Linked DNA regions of Homo sapiens: region 2 is linked to region 1. The links come from fine-mapping of genetic effects on gene expression. A gene starts in region 1. The other region holds a variant in brackets. All regions are shown on one strand. Distances are between the middles of the regions.

Region 1 (3,018 bases):
ACACAGCTGAAAACCCTGTCCCGGCCAACTCTGCCCCTACTTTCTAAGCAATCTGAACACCCCCAGCTGCCAAGGGTTTATATTTAATTAATCCTTATTTAAATGTGAATCCTCAAAACCTCCACAAAACAAGCCTCTAGCTGCACCTCGGGGCCCTATAAAAACCAAAAAGCGTGTGCAGGTCCAATGCGAGGATATGAAAAAAATAACTCCTGCCTCAAAGAAACACGGGGTTTCCATCCTGGTCCAGCTCGTGGAAGAGCGTTTCAAGCCAACTTTGGATAAAGCAGCTCTTACGGCCGTCGCTTCTCCCACTGAGGTCTGTCCTGCTGGTGCACTTACTTCCAAATGCCCCTTCCGGGAAAATGAAACCTTCCACCACCTTCGACGATCAACTGCAGAGTAAACTTGCGGAAAGTGAAGGAAAAAGCAGACACCTGATTCCTTGCAAGTCCCAGAACAAAGACGAAAGGACCACGAGTCCCGTTGTTACCATTTCTACATCCCAATCACTTGGGGTGCAATGCCCCAAGATCTAGGAAAAGGAATCCACCCTTTTGCCCCCACAAAATGTGTTCAGAGCCAAGGGTGAGCGGACCCGCACTCTCCCACACCGCATTCGGGCAGCCTGTCTGTCCCTCCCATAAAGGGCTCTGGTCAAGATCCAAGTCAAGCCGGACCCACTCCCACAAGCAGAGCTGTGAGGTCCTGGGGGTTAGGGCGGGGGTCCTCAGAGCTTCCAGGGCCAGTCCCCAGGCTGCAGACCCACTCACCTGCAGACAGGACAGCCTCCTACGACCACGATAGAGTTGGCAGGATAGCGGGTGACGGTCCGGCTGTGGATGTTGTAGACCCTGGGATGGTGGGTGGGTATCCCTGTGGGCGGGAAAGCAGGTCATTAGGGTGCAGGGAGGAGAAATCGGACCGCCACGGGGACTACTCATCCTGTCCCCTCAACCTCCACCCCGCTAAAAAAGCCCCCGGTCTTTTCCACCCTCGGGACGGCCACCGCGGGCCTGATTCGGCGCTAATCTGCCAACAGCGAGCGCCTCGTGACACAAAGTTCATCTGGGGCAGGGATCCGGCCCCGCCGGGTTACGACGGGCCCGAGGACTAGAGCCCCGGGGGGGAGGCTGGCCCTCGGCGGCGCCGGGTCCCGAAGCCAGCCCGGGGACCTCCAGCTCCAGGAAGGACCCCCGGGCGGGCCCCACCCGCCTCCGGACCCACGTCCCCCGACCGGGCTTGCCACCTCGGAAGCCGCCGGCGGGGAAAGTTGGTTACGGGCCCACCTGTGACGAGGTAGGGGTAGGGCGGCGGCGGGGGCGCGGCGGGGATGGCGCCGTAGCCGTGCGGGCCGCACGCGTAGTCGCCCTGGCCGGCCTCCAGGTTGTAGGCGGGCGGCCGCTCCTGCAGCAGCGGCTTGTGGTCCATGGCGGCCCGGCCGCGCCCGCCGCTCCGGCCCGGCTCGGCTCGGTCGGCCCCGGCGGGGGACGCGGCGGCGGCGGCGGGGACGCGGCGGACCGGGTGGCTCGGGCCCCTCTGAGGCAGACGCGGGGCGGGGCGGGGCGGGCGCGAGCCGCGGGCTTCCCCCGCCCTCCCGGGCCCAGTCACAAGACCGGGGTCACGTGGGCGGCGGGAGGCGGGGCTCGGGGGCGGGGCCGGCGGGGCGTCTTAAAGGGGCCGCGCCCTCCCGAAGCCGCCCCGCCGGCGGCGCCTCTGCACTCCGCCCCGCCCCGCCGCCGCTGCTCTCTAGACCTCCCGTGGCGGGGAGACCCCCCCCCCCGCCCATCCCCCACGACGACCCAGAGACGCCCCATAGGGTCATGACCTTTAGGGCTCGCGGATGCACCCCCACCTCCCCCTACGCCCCGATCTCCCAGGCCGGCCGAGGTCCCCCTACCGGTGGAGGAGGGGGAGGGCGGGGCCTGAGAGGGGGCGGGGCCGGGTGGGTCCCAGGCCGCCCCAACGCCAGCCCTCTGCCCCTATGATCGCCAGCGCTTCCAGCAATACAAAGGGCACACCCGGGTGTGCACCTCAGCTGCGGCCTGCGCGGTGCTCAGCTGCGGCGCATTCCCTCCGTTTGCCTTTTTTTGGACAATTAGGTGATTGACGGGGGTAGTAGCCAGTGCTTACAAATAACTCCCCCGTTTGGGGACAAAACTATAAATACTGGGCACCTGCCGCGTCTCCTCAGTTTCCCTAATCTTCAGGCAGCCCTGCCAGGTGTTTTGCTTACCCCTGGAGGACAACACGGGATCGGGCTCAGAAGGGGGAGGGATTTGGCTGTGGCAGGTGCGGGTCAGAGCCCGTATCTAAACCTGGGTGTTTTCTGGCCTCGGGGACTGCGTCAGGCGCCCTCGTTGAAACATTTCCTCATACAAGGCTTCACGGGTTGGCCAGGACAACTTTAAAACGAACGATTGGAACGTTCAGGATTGCTTGCGTCCTTAGCGCCTCTGCACCTTTTCAGGGGCACCTGTATCCGTTACTGTATTCTGTCTCCAGTTTTCTCACCTGCATTTTGATATCACCTGCACTGTAGCTCTGGGACGACTACAGCTCTTCTCGAACCGCGCCTTTTTAATTTTTAAAAAAAAAATTTGTAGGGGGTGCTGGGGGGGCTCTCTTGCTCTGTCACCCAGGCTGCAGTAGAGTGACACAGTCATTGCTCAATGCAGTCTCGACCTCCTGGGCCCAAGCCATCCTCCCACCTCAGCCTCCTCAGTAGCTGGGGACCACAGGCACACGCCACCATGCCCAGCTAATTTTTAAAAATTTTTGTATGGGATCTTGCTATGTGCCCAGGCCAGTCTCAAACTGCTGGCCTCAACCAATCCTTTTGCATCAGCCTCCCAAAGTGCTGGAATTACAGATGTCAGCCCCTGCACCCGGCCTTATTTTTATTTTTTAATAAGGGATCATCATTCACATGTATATATACACACACATACATATATATATATATATATATATATATATCTTTTTTTTTTTTTTTTTTAACAGAGTCTCACTCTGTGG
Region 2 (2,500 bases), 60 kb before region 1:
TTAATTGTTAAATAATAGGTCATGGGGTCAAATTCATGCCACTCAACAGATTGTCAGTGGGTGTACCTAAAGTCACTCATGTGACTTTATCACGTGTGATAAAGTTAAATCCTTTATCACACGTGATAAAGGTTAATCCTTCATTACCTGTACACAGTTCAGTTCAAGGCAGCACAGCTACCCAGCAGTGCCCATTTAAAAAAGGAATCTGACATTTTCATAAACTTCCAGTTTTGTTCCTAAATCAAGCAAGGTTTATTTTTATAACTCAGAAAATATTGAAAAGGTGAAAGGGAAAACAGAAATGGTAAGGGGAAAATGTTTTGCCAAAATCTTTAGAAGAACCTTTGAGTCAGTTTTTTCATCCTTAAAGCAGAGAAAAATAAAGGATGTTCTCATTGACTTCTCAGGAAATAAGACTTTCTTTGGGGAGTTTATAAATTTGCTTTGAGCTTTTTAGAGCTCACCATTATGTAAATTTAGGCTATGTTATTTTGTTGTAGTTTAGTCAGCCATTGCATTTTGAATCATTTATTGTTTGGGCCAGTTTCTGAAATTGGGCACAAAACAGAATATTTTATCTCCTCACTATCAGGGAACCTAGAAAATCATAGATTTCCTTTAATCATTGATAGAATGCTTATGGATCATGCAATTTTTAAAAACTACATTATAGATTTGTCTTGCTGATACTCAGAATCCAATCTGACAGTCTTTGGTCTAAAAATTAGAGCAGAAGCCAGGAACGGTGGCTCAGCCTGGGTGCAGTGGCTCACACCTGTAATCCTAGCACTTTGGGAGGCCGAGGTGGGTGGACCTGAGGCCAGGAGTTTGAGACCAGCTAGGCCAACATGGCAAAACCCCATCTCTACTAAAAATACAAAAGTTAGCTGGGCATGGTGGCGTACACCTGTAATCCCAGCTACTTGGGAGGCTGAGGCATGAGAATCATTTGAACCTGGGAGGCGGAGGTTGCAGTGAGCCATGATTACACCACTGCACTCCAGCCTGGATGACAGAGCAAGACTCTGTCTTTATAAAAAAAAAAAAAAAAAAAAAAA[AAT/T]CAGAAAAAAATTTCTGAAACATTTTTGAAATGTTACTAATTCACAACAATATTACAAATATATTCCTAAGATCTGGATAAAAGAATTCATACCACAGTAGGGAAAGAGCTGAGCTGAGCCACAGCAGTTATAATTGACCAAAATCACTTATCTTTTAGTTACAGGTTAGACTCACTTTAAAGAGATTAAAATTCTTCCACAAAAATAGCAAAGAAACAAGAGGAGATTTTATTTACTGAACACTGTACCTGCTATATGCCAGGCACAGTTCTAAGCACATTATAAATGTAATATTAACTCCTATAATCATCATGACAGCACTGTGAGGCCCATGCTTGTTATTTCCGTTTTATAGATGAGGAGACTGAGGTACAAAGGCAGTAACTTGCTGAGGTCGCGTATCTGGTCAGTGGCTGGTTCATTGGACCCCAGGCTACCTACCAGGTATATGACCTAGTCTGCCAACTTAATTTTCTATATGTCCAAAAGATGTGCTTTTTTAAAAAATAAAAAATTTTTTTTAGAGATGGGGGTCTTTCTGTGTTGCCCAGGCTGGTCTCGAACTCCTGGGCTGAAGCAGTCCTCCCACCTCAGCCTCCCAGAGTGCTAAGATTACAGACATGAGCCACTGCACCTGGACTGTGCTTTTCTAACGGCTTTACTTTATGGCTGTCAGATTTTCCTGCCAATTAGAGTTCAGCAAAATAAAGGATTGTGTTAAATTGCAAACCATCATATGGTCCATGCTGACTAACCATGTGAGTATGAGTCTGTATTTTGTTGGATTTTTCTCAGCTGTAATCACAATTTTGCTGGTTTTACTTAGAAGCATTTATAATGCGATCATTATTCCAGCTTTTTTTCTTGAGTATTTTCAGTTTGGGGTTTGGAAAATAATTTTTTTCCTGGAAGCAAGCACATGATAAATGCCTTTAGACCTTGAAGGTGGCTTTTCTCATCTCAATTTTTGGGTGGATGTTCTTTCTTCTCCCTTTTGGAACAGGAAAGGTCTCAGCTAGAATAATTAGAAAGGTAGGGTTATAATTTATAAAACCTGTAAGAGACAAAAAAAAAAAAAAAACCAATTAGCTGGGCCTGGTGGCAGGCACCTGTAATCCCAGCTACTCGGGAGGCTGAGGCAGGAGAATCGCTTGAACCCAGGAGGCGGAGGTGAGCTGAGGTCACACCATTGCTCTCCAGCCTGAGTGACAGAGTGAAACTCTGTCCCCTGCAAAAAAAAAAAAAAACCTGTAAGAGCATGTACTGTGGAAGTCCATGTGTCGTGTAGGCGCATTGGTGTAAGTATGTGTACATTCCTAAAGTTTAGGAAGATGTTCTGTGTTATAAATTGTACTTGTTTACAAAAGTTGTTACAAGAAGAACATTCCTTCTCTCAGCTTTGAAGTGAGTATATATATACTCAATGTACTATAATT

Direction of the effects. Positions count from the first base shown, and alleles are read on the strand shown. Sizes are in standard deviations (SD) of each study's normalised expression.
For the expression in monocytes of the gene that starts at base 1,541 in region 1, allele AAT in region 2 goes with a higher level than allele T (moderate effect, 0.72 SD a copy in Fairfax 2014).

The links.
Region 2: its variant is fine-mapped to the expression of BRI3 in monocytes (Fairfax 2014, PIP 0.95).

Annotation. Positions count from the first base shown.
Region 1 is chr7:98,280,209-98,283,226 of GRCh38, reverse strand. It overlaps BRI3 (brain protein I3), which reads right to left and starts at 1,541. Exons shown (of 3, transcript NM_015379.5): 1 at 1,290-1,541; 2 at 774-876. The coding sequence starts at 1,431. RefSeq lists silencers at 1,050-1,389, 1,520-2,029 and an enhancer at 1,726-2,710.
Region 2 is chr7:98,340,605-98,343,104 of GRCh38, reverse strand. All of the region lies in intron 3 of BAIAP2L1 (BAR/IMD domain containing adaptor protein 2 like 1), which reads left to right. Among named protein-coding and RNA genes, the nearest start is that of BAIAP2L1, 59 kb to the left of the region's middle. The variant AAT/T (reference allele first, on the strand shown) is at 1,062.